Regions from separate parts of the Homo sapiens genome. Here all the other regions are linked to region 4. Evidence: fine-mapped expression QTL. A gene starts in region 4. Each other region holds a variant in brackets. All regions are shown on one strand. Distances are from middle to middle.

Region 1 (5,260 bases), 30 kb after region 4:
GTTGGTTGTGTGTGTGTGTGTGTGTGTGTGTGTGTGTTACTGCGCCGACTTTTGAGACTAAACAGTCTCTAGAGTGGTGGTCAGTTTGTTTTTCTCTCTTTCAGGGCAAGGCAAAGTCTAATCCCTCAGTTAATACTAACTTGGATTCTCGAGATGGGGATGTCAATAAGAAAGATGTCTGGCAGTGACTTGGGAAGCTGAGGGGGGAGGATTTCTTGAGCCTAGGAGTTTGAGACCAGCCAAGGCAACATAGCGAGACCCTGTCTCTACAAAAAATATAGCTGGGTATGGCGGCGAGCAGCTGCAGTCCTAGCTATTTGGCAGGCTGAGGCAAGAGGATCGCTTGAGTCCAGGAGTTTGAGGCTACAGTGAGCCATGATCGCACCACTGCCCTCCAGCCTGGGTGACAGAGCAAGAACCCTGATCAAAAAAAAAAAAAAAAAAGGAAAGAAAGAAAGAAGGAAAGAAAAGGAAGGGAGGAAGGGAGGGGGAGAGAGAGAGAGAAACAGAAAGAAAGGGAAGGAAGGAAGGGAAGGAAATGAAGGAAGGAAGGAAAGGAAGGAAGGAAGAAAGAGAAAGAGAGAAAGGAAGAAAAAAGAAAGAAAAAGTGAGAGATGCCGGGTAGAGACAATTCCTGAGGAGTCTATGAGGTGGGGGTGGCTCGAAGGGAAGCGGGTGGGAGATGAACATCATCATCTGAGAGAAGAGATGGTACGGTGCAAACAGGACAGGGTGGATACCATTCTGACCCTGGGGCACTCATGGAATTAAGGGAATTTGTTGAAAATAGGGAGGCACAGGGCCGGGGGAGCAAACACTATCTTTCCTTTTCTTCTAAGCATTTCAGGAGGTTCCTGTGAAAAACCTACATGCACACACCCCCACGTGCAGCTGCAGACTGCTATCTATACACGAAGTTATGCATCGCAGAGTCGACTGCAAAAGGCTGGAGCCCACACAGCGTCTATCAATAGGGAACGGGTTAAATCGACCACAAGATTTCCATATGACGATGGAACACTTTCCAGCCAAGAAAGGAGGAGGAAGTCCTCACTGCTCTGATACGGAACAGTCACCAAGACATATTTTAAGTAAAAAAAAGGCAGCATGCATAACCAGGGAAATGAAAACTAAAACCACAGTGAGTTACAATTTCACACAGATCCATCTACAAAAAAAAAAAAGCTGATAATTGCAGGTGTTGGTGAAGAAGTGGAGTGAGGGGAATGCTCAAACTACTAGTGGGTGTGCGAATGGTTATAACCACTTTTTAAAATTTTGGCATTATCTACTGAAGTTGACAATGTACTTTCCCAATGGCCTTGCAAATGCCCTGGAGAAGTTCTTACCCAACCCCCGCCATTCCCCCCAACACACACCAAAAGAAACAATTAAGAACATTTGCACCAGCTCTGTTCCTAGAACCCCAAAACTGAGGCCAGCACTGAGGCCAAGCACAGTGGCTCATGCCTGTAATCCCAGCAGGCATGAGCCACCCTTTGGGAGCCTGAGGCCGGAGGATTATTGAGGTTGAGAGTTCAAGACCAGCCTGGGCAACATAGTGAGACCTTGTCTCTATAAAAGAAGTTTTAAAAATTAGCCAGGTGTGATGGCTCATGCTTGTAGTCCCAGCTAATTGGGAGGCTGAGGTAGGAGGATCGTTTCTTGAGCCCTGGAGGTTGAGGCTGCAGTGAGCCATGATTGCACCACTGCACTCCAGCCTGGGCAACAGAATGAGACCCTGTCTCAAAAAATAAAATTAAATTAGAAAACAATAATAATTATTATTAATAAATAAAATAGTCCAATGAAAATAATCATACTATCTCCATGCAATGGAATTCTATACAAGAGTGAAAATGAACTAACTCCGGACATGCGTATCAGTACACTGAACTTCAGAACTATAATTATGGGTGGGACAAAAGCCAGCCATAGAAAACTATTCTATTCATAATCCCAAAAAGGTAGTATACCATATTCAATTATTATATATATTTATGTCTTGTTATATATAATGTTTATTACATTTATCTTAGTATAAAAATATAGTATATTTATCATAATCTATTATAAACAAGTAGTAGGATTATAAAAAGACAAAAAGGGCAGGATAAGCGTAAAATTCATGATAGTATTTAGGGGAAGAGGAGGGTGGGGCTGGAGAGAGGCACATGGTTTCAAAAGCCCAGCTTCTTTGTCTAAAACAGGGCGTGGGTACCCATACTGGTCTATTGTATTGTGGGTGTCTTTAAAATGTATATATATTCTATAACTACTATTTTTGTATCTACTCAATATTTAATTTTAAAATTTTAAATGAGGCCTAGAACACTATAAAAAGTATGCTACCATTTGTATAGAAAAAGTGGACACACACATCACTCATGTGCATAGATTAAAGTGTCTCTGGAAACTTACACATGCAACTGGTGAAACTGGTTTCCTCTGGGGAGGAGAACTGGGAGGCTGGGGACAAGGAGGGGCAATAAATCAATTGAAATTAAAAATCACAAAATTTAAGGAGAAGGAGACAAAGAAGGGAAGGAGGAAGAGAAGGGAGGGTGGAGGGGAGAGGCCAAGTCCTGGTCCCAGGAGGGACAGGGAGCAGAAAGAGGAGGACTGGCCAGGCTCTGGCTATCAAAACCTGTGTGTGCCACAGGCACGAGTGGAGCCAGAAGCCTGCAGTCCTGCCCAGGAAAGCCTGTGTCCTCCGCGCACAACTCAGGCTTAGACCCAGAGAATGCTCTTTCTTGCACCTGAGGACGGGGCTGGCTTCAAACAGTTGCCCAGGTTGACCCTGGCTCTGCAGTCTTTTGTTTCCAGAGCTTTGCTTCCAAACGAGGCTCCCTTGGGTCTCTTTCCCTGGCCCTGCCTTCTTATCTCCAACCTTCACCCCACCTGTGATCCAAGCGATTCCTTTGAAGTTGCTTCAGAGTCTTCTGAGCCTTCATCCTTGATGACTCTGAAATGTGCGTCTGTGGCACCAAGGTCAGCCAACAGCAAGTAGGCCCTTTTCATCTCCTTTTAAACCTTCCCCTCAAGGACTCAGTGTCCTTGCTGTATTGCCTTATCAAAACCTGCTCACA[T/C]ATCCTTTGTTCACACTGGGATACCGGTCATTTAAAGGAAAACAGGCCCACTCTAACCAGGGTCACTGCCAAGTCCCTAAGTATCATGCCCTTGAGAGGTAAAAGCATAAAGCACTAAGGGTAGAATTTTGGGCAACAGCCAGTGGACAAGGACAAAATGGGTGCAATATGCAGGGGTCCCTTCTGCCCCACCGGTAACCATAACACCTCAGGACACAGGCTGGGGTCTGTATTCAAAAGTGGGTCCCTCAGACCGGGCACAGTGGCTCACGCCTATAATCCCAGCACTTTGGGAAGCCAAGGCCAGCGGATCCCTTGAGCCCAGGAGTTTGTGACCAGCCTGAGCAACATGGCGAAACCCCATCTCTACAAAAAATACCAAAATTAGTCTAGTCGGGCATGGTGGTGCACACACCTATGGTCCCAGCTATTTGGGAGGCTGAGGGGGGAGAATCGCTTGAGCCCCAGGAGGCAGAGATTGCAGTGAGCTGTGATCGAGCCACTGCACTCCAGCCTGGGCAACAGAGTGAGACCCTATCTCAAGAAAACAAAAACAGAAAGTAAAAAAGCAATCCTCGAGCAAAAGTGGGTCCCTCAGAGCCCAATGACAGTGATGAGGAGGATGAGGTGGGAAAGGTAGTGTTACTCTGAACTAAAAAGGACTGCCCAGTGTGACCCTATCTCCCAAACAGCCCATGCAGGGATCTGGGTGGCACCATAGTACAGAAGTGGGTGCCAAGAGAGGCCTGGGCTGCACAGCCAGGTGCATACATGCCCTGGAGTCCAGGACAGGATCAGCAGCAAATCCACTCCAGGGAGCTCTCCCCCCTCACCATCCTCTCAATCAGGGTTCCCCAGTTGAAAAGCACCTTGGCAGTTCATAATTCTCCCTCTAAAGCCAGAAAGTGCTGTAAAGGATAACAGAAGCCTGGCTGCACAGTGGAGCTTAATGGAAGTCATTCAACAAGCAGGTCTGGAGCAAACATCATGGACCAGCAGTACTGTGTGTTGGCACAGATGTGAAGCAACTATACTCTGATACGGCTTGGATATGTGTCCCCACCCAAATCTCATATTGAATTTTAATTCCCAGTGTTAGAGGAGGGGCCGGGTGGGAGGTGACTGGATCATGGGGGCAGATTTCCCCCTTACTGTTCTCACGATAGTGAGTTCTCAGATCTGGTTATTTTAAAGTGTGTAGCACCTCCCACTTTGCTCCCTTCCTCCTGCTTTGGCCATGTAAGATGTGCCTGCTTCGCCTTCCCCTTCCGCCATGATTCTATGTTTCCTGAGGCCTCCCCAGCCATGCTTCCTATACAGTCTGCAGAACCGTGAGCCAATTAAACCTCTTTTCTTTATAAATTACCAAGTCTCAGGTATTTCTTTATAGCTGTGCGAGATCAGACTAATACAGGTGGGGAGCTGTGCAAGATCAGACTCATACAGGAGGGGATATAAATTGAACACCAAATGGGAAACTGGCAGAATCCACTAAAGCTAAACATATATCTGCCCCGTGACCTAGCAATTCCACTCCTGGGACATACAAGCACTTATGTCCATCAAATGACATGTACAAGAATGTTCACAGCAGTGTTATTTATAACAGCCCTAAACTAGAAATAACCCAGTGCCCATCAGCAGGAGAATGGATACCCAAACTGTGGTGTGTTTGGATGATGGAATATTACTCAGCAACAACAAAAAGCAAACTATAGCTACATGCAAAACAGGGTGGAGCTCAGAGCCACAATGTTAAATGAAAGAAGCCAGACACAAAAGAGCGCAAGCTGTGTCATTCCATTTATGTGAAGTCCAAGAACAAGCAACACTAACCCACAGCAATGGAAGTCTGGATGGTAGTTACACTTGCAGCAGGGGTCCTGACTGGACAGGGTCATGAGGAACCTTCTAGGGCACTGGAAACATTCTGTATTTTGATTTGGATCACAATTTCATGGGTGGGTACACATATAAACACTCATAGAGATTAATCTTAAGATTTGTGTCCCAGAGTTACTGTATGTAAAACTATATCTAAAATATGAAAATACTCAAACTTCGGGGTCTGTTCCTCCTGCTCCTGACCTGACTACTCCACTAACTGGTCCTGACCTCGGAAGCATGTTGTATCTGCTGTGGAGTGATCTTCGTTCCCGATGCTGGTGGCT
Region 2 (5,000 bases), 36 kb before region 4:
AGTTCATCAGATTCTTAGGTTTTAGTCTTATCTTTGATCTAAAGTTAGACTAGGAGTAAACTGTTGAAACTTGGGGATAGAGTTTTAATTCATTTTTTATTTTGCCAGAGTCCAGGAGAGTGTTTGGCACTTAGTAGGTGCTCAATAAGTGTTGACTGACTAAGTCAAAGACAGCATAATATAGTCAAAAAGCTATAAGAAGCAGGCCTACATTGACTAGGGCCCTTAACTGTATGCTGGCAACATTTGAGTGTCACGTAGGCACTCACTTGTCTAGTTTTGTTTTGTTTTTTTTCGAGATGGGGTTTCGCTCTTGTTGCCCGGGCTGGAGTGCAATGGCGCAGTCTTGGTGCACTGCAACCTCTGCCTCCTGGGTTCAAGCGATTCTCTTGCCTCAGCCTCCCGAGTAGCTGAGATTACAGGTGCACACCATCAAGCCTGGTTAATTTTTGTATTTTTAGTAGAGATGGAGTTTCACCATGTTGGTCAGGCTGTTCTTGAACTCCTGACCTCAGGTTTTCCACCTACCTCAGCCTCCCAAAGTGCTGGGATTACAGGCATGAGCCACCATGCCTGGCCTGTCCAGTTTTGTATTTAAGTAGCATAAATACAAACATAATATGTAAACATAATACCTACTTATTGTGAGCTATTACACATTCTGCATTCTATGAAGCAATTTACATCATCGATCACATTTAACTCTCACAACTTTATGAAGTGGTATCATCCCCATTTTACAGGAAATGGAGGCTCAGGGAGAGCAAGTGTCCCAACCATGATCCCTGAGTGGAGCTGTGGCAGAGCAGGAATTTTATGTCGGATGTGTCTGTTCCAAAGCCCAATCTCCCACTGCACCCCCTACTCCCTTACACTCTCCTCTATTCCTCGGAATCTCTCTGAACACAGTTCCCAAAGCTGCTCCTCTCCGTGGGATTTAAGGAACATTAGACATGCTCACTGCACTTTGCTGCTTGGTTTTTTGGATCCCGAATGTCTTGGGAAGCCTTTTCTGGTGCCACTTGTCTTTTGCTTGTTCTTCTTGAAGACCTTATTCACCCAGTTTGAGTCTTCAGCAGGGCTCTCCCTAGGCAAAGAGATTAAGTAGATGGTTCATTATGGGCCTGACCTCGGTCCTCCAACATGGTGGCCTGCTCAGCTCCGCAGGTGGACACACCCGCGCTGTGGTTCTCAACCCTGGCTGAGGATTGGATTTCCCAGCAAACTTTTTTTAAAATATAATCAATGAATATTTATCTAAGTAACATCATGCCCATGAGTCAAATGAAACTCCGACTTTTATAGAGTTATATGTAAATGCAAAAAAGTTTAAATTATGTGAACAAAATGCATAACTTATGCCTAAGCTCAAAATTGTTAAATTTATACAAACTCTTTCAAAAAGTTTTATGGTTAAAATTATACTTAATGTGGGAAGCAGGTAAATTTTAATATGCTTGATGTGAGAGAGAGTGCAAACATTAAAAGCAGGAATGCCTCAGGCCCTGCTCTCTCAATACCTGCAGCTGTGGTCATGGAGAAACCCAGCTACTGCCAGAGTGGTCCCAAGGCAGGGAGGGATGAGAGGGGGGCTGGGGTTGTGGGGAGAAATACCCTTGACCCAACTTCTGATCTCCTGCTGTGCCTCCCCCACCACCAGTACAAACGGCATTCAGCCAGCAAGGGAGCCTGGGTAATGTGGTCCTCAGGGAAGTTTTTAAAAAAGCAGATCCCCAGGTCCTCTCATAGTTATTGCAAAGATATAATGGAGTGTATGTTATGCAACCCAGACACTTGATGTGCATAATAAAAAAGATTTTCTGGGGACAGTCTACAGTCTAGTACTATCAGGTCATTATCATGCTAATAGAAAATAGTTCGGAGTAAGGAAGGCCTTTGATAGAGACCCTTAATTCATTTCATGCAGGAGCTACCTAAGGCTGGGAGGTAGGATGCCTGCAGGCCCTCTTGGAACTGTGGCATCACCAGAGAGTAAAATATGAGGGCAGGGGATGCACATTCTTGCACTGCACTCAGAGAAGGAGCATCCCCAGTGTGCAGGAGAAGAGAATGACATCATCACCACGGACAGGCTCCTTCCCCACACACTGCCCTAACTGAACAAGAGAAGGCAGCTTTGTGAGATGTAAAGGGGTGGACCTGGAATCACACAATCACACACACCAGAAAAGGATCCCAGAGTTCCTGGGGCAGCTAAGGTGGTGGAAGATATCGCTTAGCCGGGCTTGCTTCTTCCGTCCAAAGGAAAGAGCGTGCTCCACGAAGGGGAAACTTACGTTAC[A/T]TAAGGCTTGCTGACGGTTTCCTTCACATGAACCAGAGGCACGGCGCTTTTTGGTTTTGAAGAGACAAGAAGAGCTACAGCTAAAAGTAAAGATATAGGAAACGGGAGTGAGATGGGGAGGGGGGATATGGAGTCATTTTTGAAATAGCAATAGTCAGTAAATGAGAATGTTTAAAAACAGCAAAGAACTCTCTTGTCCTCAAATTCTCATCTTTACAACCAGAGTCATGTCGTGGGACTTGACTGAGACGCAGGCCCGCGGCATCTGTGGAGCGGCTGACTCGGACCCTTGGTGGAACATTAGAAACAACTCCCAGGGGCAGGCCCGGTGGCTCATGCCTGTAATCCCGGCGCTTTGGGAGGCCAAGGCGGGCAGATCACTTGAGGCCAGGAATTTGAGACCAGTCTGGCCAACATGGTGAAACCCTGTCTCTACTAAAAATACAAAAATTTAGCTGGGTGTTGTAGTGCATGCCTGTGATCTCAGCTACTCGGGAGGCTGAGGTAAGAGAATCACCTGAGCCTCAAAAGTTGAGAGTGCAGTGAGCCGGGAGTGAGATACTGTCTCCTCCTCCACCACCAAAAAAAAAAAAAAAAAAAAAAGAGAAAAGTAAAGAAAAATAAGGAAAAGAAAAGAAATAGCTCCCTCGCAGAAAGCAGCATGTTAGGGAAGGTTTTCAGGAAAATCCCCTGAAGGGGCCTGGACTTTCCATCACATGCTTCATGTAATGCTTTTTGTTTGTTTCTTAGAACAGAGTATTAATAGTTTCATGGCCATTACTCTTAAGTAAGCTCTTTACATGTTTTTAATGAGTATGGGGATACATAATACATGAAGGTTAATATGTAATTATGTATTATATATAAATAAAGGTAATATAAAGTATATGTGGGTTCTTCTGAAGTTATTTTGTTAGAGACTTGTTGTATGTCCCTAACTCTCCCAAATCTATTCACAATGAGGCTTGTCCTTTTGTTTTTGGATATTCCTAGGGCTTTTAACAATTTTCCTGTTCCCCAATGCCACCAATGGCCATCATTAAATGACTGATACCACTAAACTCTAGGGCAGGGGTGTCCAATCTTTTGGCTTCCTTGGGCCACACTGGAAGAAGAATTGTCTTGGGCCACACATAAAATACACTAACAGTAATGATAGCTGATGAGCTGAAAAAAAATCCAAAAAAAATCTCACAATGTTTTAAGAAAGTTAATGAATTTTTTATAGACTGGTGCATTCAGAACCATCTGGGCCGCGGGTTGGATAAACTTGCTCTAGGGGGTCTCAGCTCTGCCTAACTCACATAGATGGCCTAGGATGTCACCATTGAGGCTCAGCTGTAAGCTATAACATGGCTTCTCAATCTCAGTACATGCTATTGACACTAACGGTCAGAAAGCACTTTGTGCAGAGACTTCTGTGCACTACAGGATATTTTTCAGTGTCCCCAGCCTGTAACCACTAGGTGACAACCAAAATGTCTGCAGACATTGCTAAATGTCTCCTGGAGACAAAATCACTCCCAGTAGAGAATCACTAGACTATATATGCCCTCTATCCACCCCCGATATGAGTGAGGAATGCCGACTTGGGGTGCAGGATTGCTCAGGTACCTGAAGATGGCCGCCTTCATGCACAGGTGTGGTTAATGTAAAACAAGTGTTTTGTATTTAACAGGAAATAAGAGAGCAGGTAAAACACTGCGCCCAATTTTCTGACTTTTTTTTTTTTTTTTTTTTTTCCTGAGACGGAGTCTCACTCTGTCGCCCAGGCTGGAGTGCAGTGGCACGATCTCTACTCACTGCAACCTCCGCCTCCCAGGTTCAAGTGATCCTCCTGCCTCAGCCTCTTGAGTAGCTGGGACTGCAGGTACTTGCCACCATGCCCGGCTAATTTTTTGTATTTTTAGTAGAGATGGGGTTTCACCACGTTGGCTAGGCTGGTCTCGAACTCCTGACTGAAAGTGACTTGCCTGCCTCTGCCTCTCAAAGGCATGAGTCACAGCCTAATTTTCTTAATGGTGTTTTGTTTTTGTCTCATTAAAAGAGTCAAAGTAAACCTGTTCCAAAGAAAGGGCATCTCTACCAAGTTGGGGCTAATTCCCAGATGAGGAGACATTGCCGATCTGTGACGTTTACCATAATAGCTCTGGAAGTTTGGCTGAGGACCATGAGCACCCTACAATCTGGCTTCAGTCCTTCATTTGGGTCTCTGTCCCTCTGTCTCCACCCAGACCATCCATGGTGGCCACACACAAGTCCTCTCCTTCCTAAAGTACCTTGAAAGTACCCTGCACATTCCTGCACTGCACCTGAGCATTTTAAATAAACAAAATCGGAAATGCTCTTTCTACTCCAACCCATCCAATCCCACAAACCACGATGTTCAAAATCCTGCCCATTTAAGCTCACCTGTCACCTCCAAGAAGCTTTTCATACTGCCCCAGAGATAAGTGGTCTTATTCTCTACGAATACCCTCCAACACTGTGTTTTTATTAGTTATATAGTACTTAATACTTCTGATATATATATATTTTTTAAATGGAGTTTCACTCTTGTTGCCCAGGCTGGAGTGCAATGGCACAATCTTGGCTCCCTGCAACCTCCACCTCCTGGGTTCAAGCGATTATCCTGCCTCAGCCTCCCAAGTAGCTGGGATTACAGGCATGCACCACCAAGTTTGGCTGATTTTTTTGT
Region 3 (5,000 bases), 23 kb before region 4:
CTTCTACTGTTTGAACTTTCCCTACCCTCCAACACTGCCCTTACCTGGGGCCCCACCGGTACTTACTCAGCCGCCTCAAGTACAAAACTGCATCCTCGTACCCTCGGTAGTAGTAATCGTGCAGGATCTGTGGGCGGAGGCACCAGGAGAATTACCAAGGCTGCGGGGAGGAAGGGAGCCACAGTTCCCCCGACCCAGGGCAGCTACTCCCATTGCTCTTGAATTTTATTTGATGGGCTTTTCAAAACGTACCCATCCAGTGTCCCATCCCTCACTGTCTGCTAAGAAGAACCGAGGAGCAATTCCTGATCACACGCCCCAGTGATGCTCCGTTCATGAGTTACACCATTCATGGTGGAGCCTCGGCCTCCCCTGGGAGGAAAGTGTGGGGTGCTCATGGCAGAACCAGGTGCACTGGGGCCATATGAAGAGCAAAGTTTGGAGCCTGAGTTCAGGTCTCTGGGCTGCCCCTTATTGGCTGTGTTGCTGTCCCCTCTCACAGCCTCAATTTCTTCATCTATAAAATGGGGACAGTTATAATATTGATCATAGAGGATGCTAGAGGATTACATGAGCTACTGCCCACAAAGCCTTTTCTGTAAAGGGCCAGATAGTAAATACTTATTTTGGGCTTTGCTGGCCACATGCAGTCTCTGCCTAATGTTCTTTTTCTTTTTCTTCTTTTTTTCTTTCCCCCATAACTCTCTAAAAATGGAAAACCCTTTCTTAGCTCACAGGCTGTACAAAAACAAGCCATAGGCTAGATTTGGCCCGTGGGCTGCAGCTTGCCGACCTTTGATTTGGGACATGAACTGTCTGAATGGATGGGTTCAGTTAATATTTCTATCAGCACTTCTGGCATCATCTCGCTTTACCGGGGAGAATGTTGAAGCTGGGAGAGCTTGAGGCGCTTGTTCAAGGTCACATAGCTAGTTAGCAGCAAGGCCAGGATGCAGGTCTAGGAGGAAGTTTAAAGGACCATTTGAGGGGAGGAGACTCAGATGGAACTTGAGTGGGCCCCAGTGGCTCTCTAACCCCACCCCTAGTCCCTGGTACCTTCTGCTACTCCCCAGACCCCTCCTGCCTCTCACCACCAGGTCCGGGGGGAACAATGCGTGGGTCATCCTGGCGATGTTCTCCAGGGAGAACTGGAAGGAGCAGTTGAACATGCGGAAGTCGTGGAAGATGGCCGGGCAGTCCCGGGGACAGATGTCCTGCTGCCCACTGAAGGTGGAGATGGTGATGGCGTCGGTCCAGAAGGCACAGGGCTGCATGCCCGTGAAGCCCCCATCGATGTACCTCTGTGGGGGCAGAGTGAGAAATGCCCACTTGGGGCCAGAGTTCTCAGCCCCACTCGGGGTACATCGAAATGGCCCATGGGATATGGCACCAGCTTCAAGGGCCCATCAAGGAAGATCCAGAAGACCCCTCAGGATAAGCCTGGAGACGGAGGTCCTGGTGGGTGCGTGGTGTGCCCCTGGTCACTTAGTGAGTCTGCATTGGCCTCTGGACTCCCAGCCCGGTGCTCTGTCCTGCACTGATCCTCCCTCCACTATCTTAGTGGCGCTGAGACTGGGGCTCCCAGGGCTCTGTGTGCAGGGGACCCATACTCTGGGTAAAGCAGGAGACGTGCTCCTCTGCTACAGCCCCACCACCTGTTCACCCACAAGCCCCTTCCTTTCTGGGGCTTCTGTTTTCTCACCTATGAACGAAGGACAACAAATACTGAGGCTCTAACTCTCAGGGCTGGCTGACATGCAATACAAGCTCCATCTACTACCTGAATCCTAGTCTCTGGCCCTGACTTTCTCTGCATATAAAATGAGGAGGGGGCATGAGCTAGACCATCACCACTCAGAGTGTGGCCCACCCACCAGCAGCACGGGCAGCACCTGAGGCTGGTTAGGGGCGCAGACCCTCAGGCACTGCCTCAGACCGCCTGGATCAGAACTTGCATAATTTTACGAGACCCCGAGTGATTCAAGGGCACATTAAAGTCTGTAAGGCCCTGGCCTACAGGCCTCAGAAAACATCCTCATCATTTGAGTTTCCAGGTCCCAGTGCTTCATCTCCTCTGCTCTGTCAAGTCTGGGAAAACCTGCCAAGCCTATGGAGCCTTGATTTGCCCGGCTTGGCAGTGGGTAGGTGGGTCCAGAGAGGAACCCACCCCAGCTGGAGAAGTTCATCTTAAAGGCCCAGAAAGCCACCTACATTGGGAATTCTGAGTAACAACATGAGAAACTCTCCAACTCTAGGTCC[T/C]CCCGCTGCATTCTGAGACCACCCCCCTGCTCCCCCAGGTGTGAGTCACAGGGACCCGAGGTCCCTTGGATCCCATCTCACCCCTCACCATGCCGAAGCACTCACCACACCGCGGTAAGTCGGGGGGATGAGGCCACAGTACACCGGGACGAAGCAGCTGCAGTATAGGGCCTGTGCGGAGAGAACAGGGCTGAGATGCTGGAGGCCCGGGGGTGGGGTGGGGACAGCTCACCTGTCAGCCCCTGGGCCACCCACCACCAGCCCAGACCTCCTTAAATTCTAGGTGAAGGTGCCACACTGGGAAGCAAAGCTCCGAGTTCAGTTCCTGGCCTGGCCTTCACTAATTGGGTCCTTGGTAACCTGCTTGGTCCATCTGGCCCTGATGTCCCAGCTTTAAAGCAGGAGGGGGTCCTCCATAGCTTCGGGGTTCCTTCTGATGCTGAACTTTCATGAATCCAGTGGGATTCAACAACCATTAATGTGTGTCAGCCCTGGGCCAGGCCCTGGAAGCAAAGGAGGCTGAGAGGCCCACCTTTGGGAGTGCCCTATGAGAGGGAGTGAGCAAGTGGGTGACGGTGCAGTGGGGTGACAGGGGCATGGTGGAGGTGAGCATGGGCACCGTGGCTCCACAAGAGGGGTGCAGGCAGGGTGGGAGGGGATGAAGGGAAGTGCCCTGGCAGGAGGGACTGGGTTTCAGCAGCAGGCAAAGCAGTGTGGGAAGGAGGGAGGGGATCCCAGGCAGAGGGAGCGGCAGGTGCAAAGACCCAGAGGCCTGGCTTGTGTGTGGTTTGCTAGGGTTGGCATGGTAGGAGTGGAAGGTGGGGGAGAGGGCCGGGAAGAGAAAACTGCAGCAGTGGGCAGTGAAGTCAGAACGGGGGTGGGCGTGAGGAGGCAGATCTGGAAGAGCTGGCTGCTGATAAACCCAGGGGGCCTGAGGGACGGAGGTGGTGTCTGTGCCCACTGCCTATTCATCCCTCATCCCCAGGATTACTGCCAGGCCAGTATGGGATGAGGATGGAGTGGCGAAGCCCCTGTATGTGGGGGAAGGAAGGAGAGTGGAGATGTGGGAAGGAGGCCACACAGCTTAACCCCTTTGTCCCGAAAGACACTGGGACCTACCTGCGGCCCTTTCCAGCAATCATTATTCATAACTAAAATTAATATTAATGAGCTTAGGGCAGCGCACTCAGGATTAGCGTGCACTTTTCTAAGTGTTAACTGATTTGGTAACCATTCAATCCCTTATCAAGGGCCACTGGAAGAGAGGGGGCAGAAAGGGGACATGGGGGCCCCTCTCCCCTGACCGTTCCCACAAAGTGGGAGTAATTCTGGGGGGATGCATGGCAGCCCAGCCTGGAAGGCCCTGAAGGAGACCCAGGCCCTCTGCAAGTCACACCTGGGCCTCTGGGAAGCTCCAGGCTTAGCGCAGGGGGCCGGGCAGGATGGATGTGAAGGCCGAAGCATTGAGGGTGGCGGTCAAGCCTGGTTCGTCCTGGGCTTCTGTGTCCATCTCATCTAGCACTGCACCTTGCACAGCGAGACTCTGGGGGCATGAAGGAAGGGAAGGACTAGGGAAGTGAGGCAGGTGGATAAGGCATCGGGTTGAGCTGTGGAGAAAGAGCAGGAGCCGCCCTCCCCCGCCCCCTCCGTGTCCCTCCCTCCCAGCCCAGCCCCCTTGCCTCAATGAGCTCCTCCTTGGACGTGAACTCTGAAACCACCACATTCTCCCCGTCCGTTAAGCGGGTGAGGCTCACATGGAGCTTCCCCGTGGTGACCTTGTAGGAGTCCTCGGGCAGGACCCGGTACAGAAACTGCCTCATCATCTGCACCATCTTACAGGACGGGGACAAGGGCCCCAGGAAGGATTTCTTCACCTCGGCCACACCCACGTTGAGGACTCTGAGATACTCATCTGCAAAGGAAGCAGAGAAGAGGGGGTGGTCGGTGCCACCCAGTGGCCAGGGGCCAAGGGAGGTCTAGGGTGGTTTCTCCAACTCATCTCTGAATCCAACAAATGGGGAAACCTAGAATTCGGAAGCTGGGAAAACCCCAGGAATCGGCCTGCTGTCTTGCACATGACGGAAGCAAGATATTGAGGAAGGAAGTCGCTGGCTCCGGAGAGCCCAGAGCTAGGCAATGATGGAGCTGGACCCAGGCATCCTGACCTTTGTCCAGGAGTCATTACGTGACAGACACCTTCATATCAACAGCTAAAGGAACACTTTAGCCCAACCCCCAATAGCTTTCCCTAACTTCTTGTCACTCTGCCTGGAAGTCCACTGCCAGATGACATTTTTGGGGTCCTGTATGAGATTCCTATTAAAACACTGGTGCAGTTGGAAGTTGTTCCTAAGTGACGCCCTGGGATACTTGCTTGGTGCCCACTGAGTCTGTGGGCAGGGAAGGGGTGCTGGCCTTGGGCCGGTGAATCATGAGGAGGAGGTGAACTTTGTCTTGAAACCATTGCATCATCTTTCCTTTATGGCCCTGGTCCAGGTCTGAGAGGGAGATGACCCTGAGATATGGACTATGTAAGGCTCGCCTGTGCCATTTGCTCAGTGGGCAGATGCGCTATTCGGGGGTGGCAGAGGAGGGTGTAATCTTCCCCACCCCAAGTCCCCAGAACCCCACCAGGGAAGTCTGGGTTGTAAGCTTAATAAGAAGTGCTAACTTGCTTAATTCCCACAACAATACTGGGAGGTAGGTATTTCTATCTTCCTTTTACTGATCAGGAAACTGAG
Region 4 (5,247 bases):
TGTGGCCTGTTAGGAACCAGGCCGCACAGCAGGAGGTAAGCAGCAGGTGAAGCTTCTTCTGTATTTACAGCGGCTCCCCATCACTCACATTACCGCCTGAGCTCCGCGTCCTGTCAGATCAGTGGCAGCACTAGATTCTTATAGGAGCGTGAACCTTATTGTGAACTGTGCATGGGAGGGATCTAGGTTGTGCACTCCTTATGAGAATCTAATGCCTAATGATCTGTCACTGTCTCCCATCACCCTCAGATGGGACTGCCTACTTGCAGGAAAACAAGCTCAGGGCTCTGATTCTACCTTATGGTGAGTTGTATAATTATTTCATTATATATTAAAACATAATGATAATAGAAGTAAAGTGCACAACAAATGTAATGCGCTTGAATCATTCTGAAACCATCCCCCACCAACCCTGGTGTGTGGAAAAATTGTCTTCCACAAAACCAGTCGCTGGTGTCAACTGGAGACCGCTGCTGTAACAATGCCGGGAACTAGGCGCTATTAGGAGCTCCCATTTGTGGACGGAGAAACAGAGGCGCAGAACGTTCAATAACTTACTTCAGGCATGCATCATGAAATGGCAGAGCTGGGATCCCACCTGAGGAGCTCACGCCCTCTGCCCCCTCCCCACTTGCTGTCACAGCCGTCTGTGCTCCCCCTCCCTTAGGTGAGATGAGAGCTTGTGGCTAAGGCCACATGACCTGGCCCCTGTTGACCTCCCACCACCTTTTCCACACCGCAGGCTTCGTGGCTGCTCCTCCACCAGGAATTCTCCTTTTCAGGAGCTCCCAGTAGCTTGTTCTATCACTATACCCAGCTCTAGGCTTGAATGTCACCTCCTCAGAAAGGCTTCCCTGACCACCTTCCTGAAATAGTCTCCATTTCATTCTCAGTCCCTTTCCTGCTTTAATTTTATTCATAGATCATATCACTTCCCGACCTCACACTAGAAGGTGCCTTGTTTGAATGTTTATTATCTGTTTCTTTTCTCTAGAATTTCTGCTCCACAAGGGCGGGGACCTTGTCCTCAGTGCCTGGAACAGAGCTCTGTCTAGAATAGGAGCTCTGTAAATGAATAAATGCCCCTCCAAGGTAGCTCACTAGGCTGTTGGGCTTGTTCCTTGGGGCTGCTAGATGCATCTGCTGTCCGGGACAGTGTTTCTCTCTCTGGGTTAGCAGTGTAGCAGTTCTTCTCGCTGAGGCTCCTGGACCAGCAGGACAGAAGGTGAAGTGAGAGCTTCTGTATTCTCTCCCCACCCCTTCCTATTCTTCTCCCACTCTGGGCTCCCTCCTGTCTACCCCTCCAGCCTCAGGGCGTTCATCTTTCCAGCCACCTGGAAATGGTGGACAATACGTCCCCATCAGGGTGATAGAGATTTGAAGAGTTGCCTCTCCCAAGGGTATTTGCATTTTGAAAGAGGCCAGGCAGGAGCAACACTGAACCCCAATGTATGACTGTGCCGTGGTGTAGCTTCTGACAGCACCATGTTCGATGTTCGAGGGAGATACTGTCCTTTACTCTCCCAGGCACTGGGAGACAGAGCATCTCACAGGTAAGGGCACTGAGGGAGAGGGACAGGGGTCCAGGCTCACCCTGCATGTTAGAGTCTGGGGCCTGGCAGACCCCAACCTTCAAACGTCACAGCTGCCGCTATCCTACTCCAACCAGCTCTTCCCTTCCCTTCCTGCCACCCAGGCCTGGCTTTGTCCCCCAAAGCATCCCCAGCCTCCCTCACGCTCCTTCTGTCTCTGTGGAATCCCCCAAGAGACTTCCCAGGGGACCCAGAACACAGGCCTCACCCATTTCAATCCCGCAGATGGCCAGGGCGGCGATCACAGCACCTGCCGATGTCCCCGCAAAGCGGTGGGCTGTTTCCAGCATCCGGGGGGCCAGGTCCCGCAGGGCGTCCACAGCCCCCGCCTGGTAGAAGGAGAGGAATCCACTGCCCGAGAAGGAGATGGAGTGAGGGGTGTCCGGGTCCCCCTTGAACACCTGTTCTTCCATCTCCTCGGCCTCTGACTTTCTGCGGAAGGCGGAGCCACCCTTCAGCACTTGCCTGCCCGAGCCTGGGCTGCCGCTCCCTGTAGGAACTCCCTACCCAGCTTCCCTGCCACCCCGGAGCTTGGAATGTGGCTGTCTCTACCCGGCTGGAGCAACCACAGGCTGCTCAGGAAGCTGCCTCAGCCTGTTAAGCTCCGCCAGGAGGCAACTCCAAAGGTTGGAAAGGGGCCCCAGAATGAGATGCAGAAGGCTCCCCCGGTGTGTGAGCAGGGTCTTGGTCCTGTGAGCCCCCCACTGGCTTCATTTCTTGGCTAGATTCATCTCGGGCACGGGATCCTCAGCCCTCTGCCCATCCATGGTATACCAGGGCGCATTCACTGCTCCCCAGCACAGGGCCATGCCCAAGGAGGCGGGCTCTGCCCAGCCCTCAGCTGCAACATTCAGTTGCAAAACCTCCGTGATGGTTATCGGTGTACACCTCCCTCCCCAACATGCTGCTGCGGCCGTGAAGGGCTTCCAAGCCCGCCTCCCTCCAGGAGGACGGTGCCTACCCCATCTCTTTTGGACGGGTCCCCCAAAAGAGATGCCCCTCCTGGGCTCCTTCAGGCTATGTGGTATGTGTGATGTGTTACACAAGCATTTTTATTTGTTTTTCTTACATAAACACCCCTTTGTTTATTCACTTGTTTATTTACATGTTAGCATTGGCCCTGGGTAAAATTTTAAGAGAAGTGTGACTTTGGCGGCCCCACCCACCACCGCCTCTGCACCTCTCTCTGTTTCTTCTCCTGGGCCCTTCACTGACCCTGTGACCTTGGTCAGTGCCCTCTCGACAAGCCCCAAGCCCTCATGCTATCTTCTAAGTGTGCAGGAAGAAATCAACCTGAAATCTAGATCATTCTAAGTGTGTGAGGCTTCGTGTTGCGTGTTCTTCTTCCCGCTCAGAAATGAGAAGTTTGAGATAGCAATGTTTAACCCCAAGGAGGAGCAGCTGGGGAGGTCACCTGTGGGGACGTCGGGGTCAGGGCAGAGAGACGTTTTGGTAAGGGAGGTGGTGTGAGAGGACCAGGGTTAGCTCCAGGGGCTGCGGTTCTGCCCCCTGAGGGGCTGTATCATGTGGTCCTGATGGGGAGGAGTGGTTCTCACACCCACAAAATGTCCCCTCATGGAGATATAACAAAGAAGGCAAGATGGCGTCTCCCGCTCCCCTCAAAGACCACACAGCAACAGGACCAGAATCAGAATCAAGACACCAAGGCCTCCACCAAGTGCCAATCCAGGATGTGACATCAGTGGCTTCCCCGCTTCTGGGGAGCTTGCACCATTCTGGTGGACTCACTTATCTGCATGGGAATTCCACAGTGAGGGCAAGGCCAGGCTTCAGTTAGGAGGGAGTTTTCTGTCTTGGGTAGGTAATTCCAGGCATATCATTGCCTCAGGTTGAAAAGAGAGCTTTAGATTAGATAAAGTGTGTGTGCGTACATGCGTGTGTATGCATGTGTGCATGTGTGTGCAGATATCTGAGGCATACTGCTGGGGTGGGGGCGGGTGTGTCAGGGTGGAGTCCAGTCAGCTTTTGGACAGCAGAGACCCTGCCCCCTTCCTGGGAGGTGAGGTCAGCTCCACTGAGGGCTTGTGTGCCAAGCCCTGTGCTGTGTCGGGGCCCTGGGGGACAGGAGCACACAGAAGCTCCATCCCCAAATCAGATATTTGCAGGCTTCTTGGGAACAAGACAGGCAAATGTGAAATAAGCAGAAAACTGTACAAGGCAATCTATAATTAAGTACTAAACTGTGCAGGGCTGAGATTCCTGCCAGAAAAGTTAGGAGGCGGGGCTGAGCAGTGTGGGCTGGAACATCTGAGGAGCTGTGCGGCGGAGGTGTGGGCTGCGGGACTGGAGGCAGCTGGGAGGAGCAGGCAGGCACTGGTCGAGGAGCAGCAAGAGCCCCTTGCAGAGAAGGGAAGGGGTGTAATGGGACCTGTTTCACAGGATGAAGGGCTTTGGATGAGAACCCTTCTGAGTCATGACATTGGATCCCAACTCTGCTATTTACAGGCAGTGTGACCTGTGCATGATCTCTCTGGGCCTCAGTTTTCCTCATCTGTGAAAGGGACAATACTGTCATTCCTATGCTGCACAGTAGCTGTAAAGGCTAAAGGTAATGGCTGTAGGACGCCTGGCACACGGCACGTCTGTGGTTATCAGAGGGTAGTAAGAGTCAAGGCTTCTGGAACAGATAGACCCCAGAGATAAGGTGGAATAGAAAGGCAGGGTCCAAAGGGGAAGGCTTGATCCACATGCGACATGAGGAGGAGCTTGGAGAGGTCTCAAGATGCAGAGCCTTGGAAGGAAGATGAGACTGGGGCTGGAGAATGAGGAAGGAGGATGGTGGCCCATTCTCCTAGGATGATGGTGGCCAGGCCAGGGTGGCAGCTGCAGGAAGACAAGTTAATGAAGTTATTGCTGCAGAAGACTCTCAGGGCCAGGGACTGGTTGGATGGGCAGGGTGAGTCAAGGCTGAGGCCTCACTTTTAGCCTGGGGGTAGGGAGGAGTGGGGCTGCCTCCTGCAGAGTTGGGGAAACTGGAACAGACCTGGGGAAGCTGGGTGGAGGATGATTTTACTTTAAGATGCATCTGAGATGACAGCAAGACATGGGCACTATCCATGGGGGGGGCAGGGATGGCACCAGAACCAAGGACAGAGATCCCTGCCACTGAGGCAGCAGAGAAGGGTAAGCAGGCGGAGGAGGGTGTGGGGTCATGTTGAGGGGAGGACAGCTATGGATAAGTTTCTTTTTCCGGGTCATCCCAGTGAAATAGAAAGCAAGGCCACCTGCTGTACATGGGCTTCAGGCACCTGGGGGGCTGGGGACCCACCACCCCTTCAGAGACAGTGCATCCTGACATGGCCCCCGTTGTCCCCACCTGCTTGGACCCGGCTGACTTCCACGAATGCACATATGTTTCTGTTCCCTGTGGACGTGGAGACAGCAATGACGCACAGCCTCCTCCATGCAAACACGCCAGCCAGAAATCCGTGACTATACCCAGCAAGGCCGTGGAGGAGCTGCTAACCTGGACCCCAAAGGCTGAGCCTGGCAGACTGGTCTCCACAGCTGACAAGGGCTGGTGAGCAGCAGGCCTCAGCCTGTCCTCTGCTGGGTGCTAAACTCTTGAGAAGGTTCCTTTCATTCGCCCTGGTTCCTGACCCTCTACTCACGCCCTAAGAACTTCAAGCGAATG

The links.
Region 1: its variant is fine-mapped to the expression of PNPLA1 in stomach (GTEx, PIP 0.99).
Region 2: its variant is fine-mapped to the expression of PNPLA1 in whole blood (INTERVAL, PIP above 0.99). The same link has a PIP of 0.9 or more in sun-exposed skin and unexposed skin.
Region 3: its variant is fine-mapped to the expression of PNPLA1 in whole blood (TOPMed, PIP above 0.99).

The regions. Positions count from the first base shown.
Region 1 is chr6:36,237,651-36,242,910 of GRCh38, reverse strand. It overlaps LOC105375036 (a long non-coding RNA gene), which reads left to right. Exons shown (of 5, transcript XR_007059564.1): 5 at 840-959. Among named protein-coding and RNA genes, the nearest start is that of PNPLA1, 30 kb to the left of the region's middle. RefSeq lists a silencer at 2,785-3,079. The variant T/C (reference allele first, on the strand shown) is at 3,090.
Region 2 is chr6:36,303,674-36,308,673 of GRCh38, reverse strand. PNPLA1 (patatin like domain 1, omega-hydroxyceramide transacylase) reads right to left here. Exons shown (of 9, transcript NM_001374623.1): 7 at 2,298-2,382; 8 at 962-1,087. Among named protein-coding and RNA genes, the nearest start is that of BNIP5, 31 kb to the left of the region's middle. The variant A/T (reference allele first, on the strand shown) is at 2,303.
Region 3 is chr6:36,290,491-36,295,490 of GRCh38, reverse strand. PNPLA1 (patatin like domain 1, omega-hydroxyceramide transacylase) reads right to left here. Exons shown (of 9, transcript NM_001374623.1): 2 at 3,939-4,171; 3 at 2,365-2,430; 4 at 1,092-1,301; 5 at 67-127. Among named protein-coding and RNA genes, the nearest start is that of PNPLA1, 23 kb to the right of the region's middle. The variant T/C (reference allele first, on the strand shown) is at 2,260.
Region 4 is chr6:36,267,218-36,272,464 of GRCh38, reverse strand. It overlaps PNPLA1 (patatin like domain 1, omega-hydroxyceramide transacylase), which reads right to left and starts at 2,405. Exons shown (of 9, transcript NM_001374623.1): 1 at 1,801-2,405. The coding sequence starts at 2,005. RefSeq lists an enhancer at 3,711-4,297.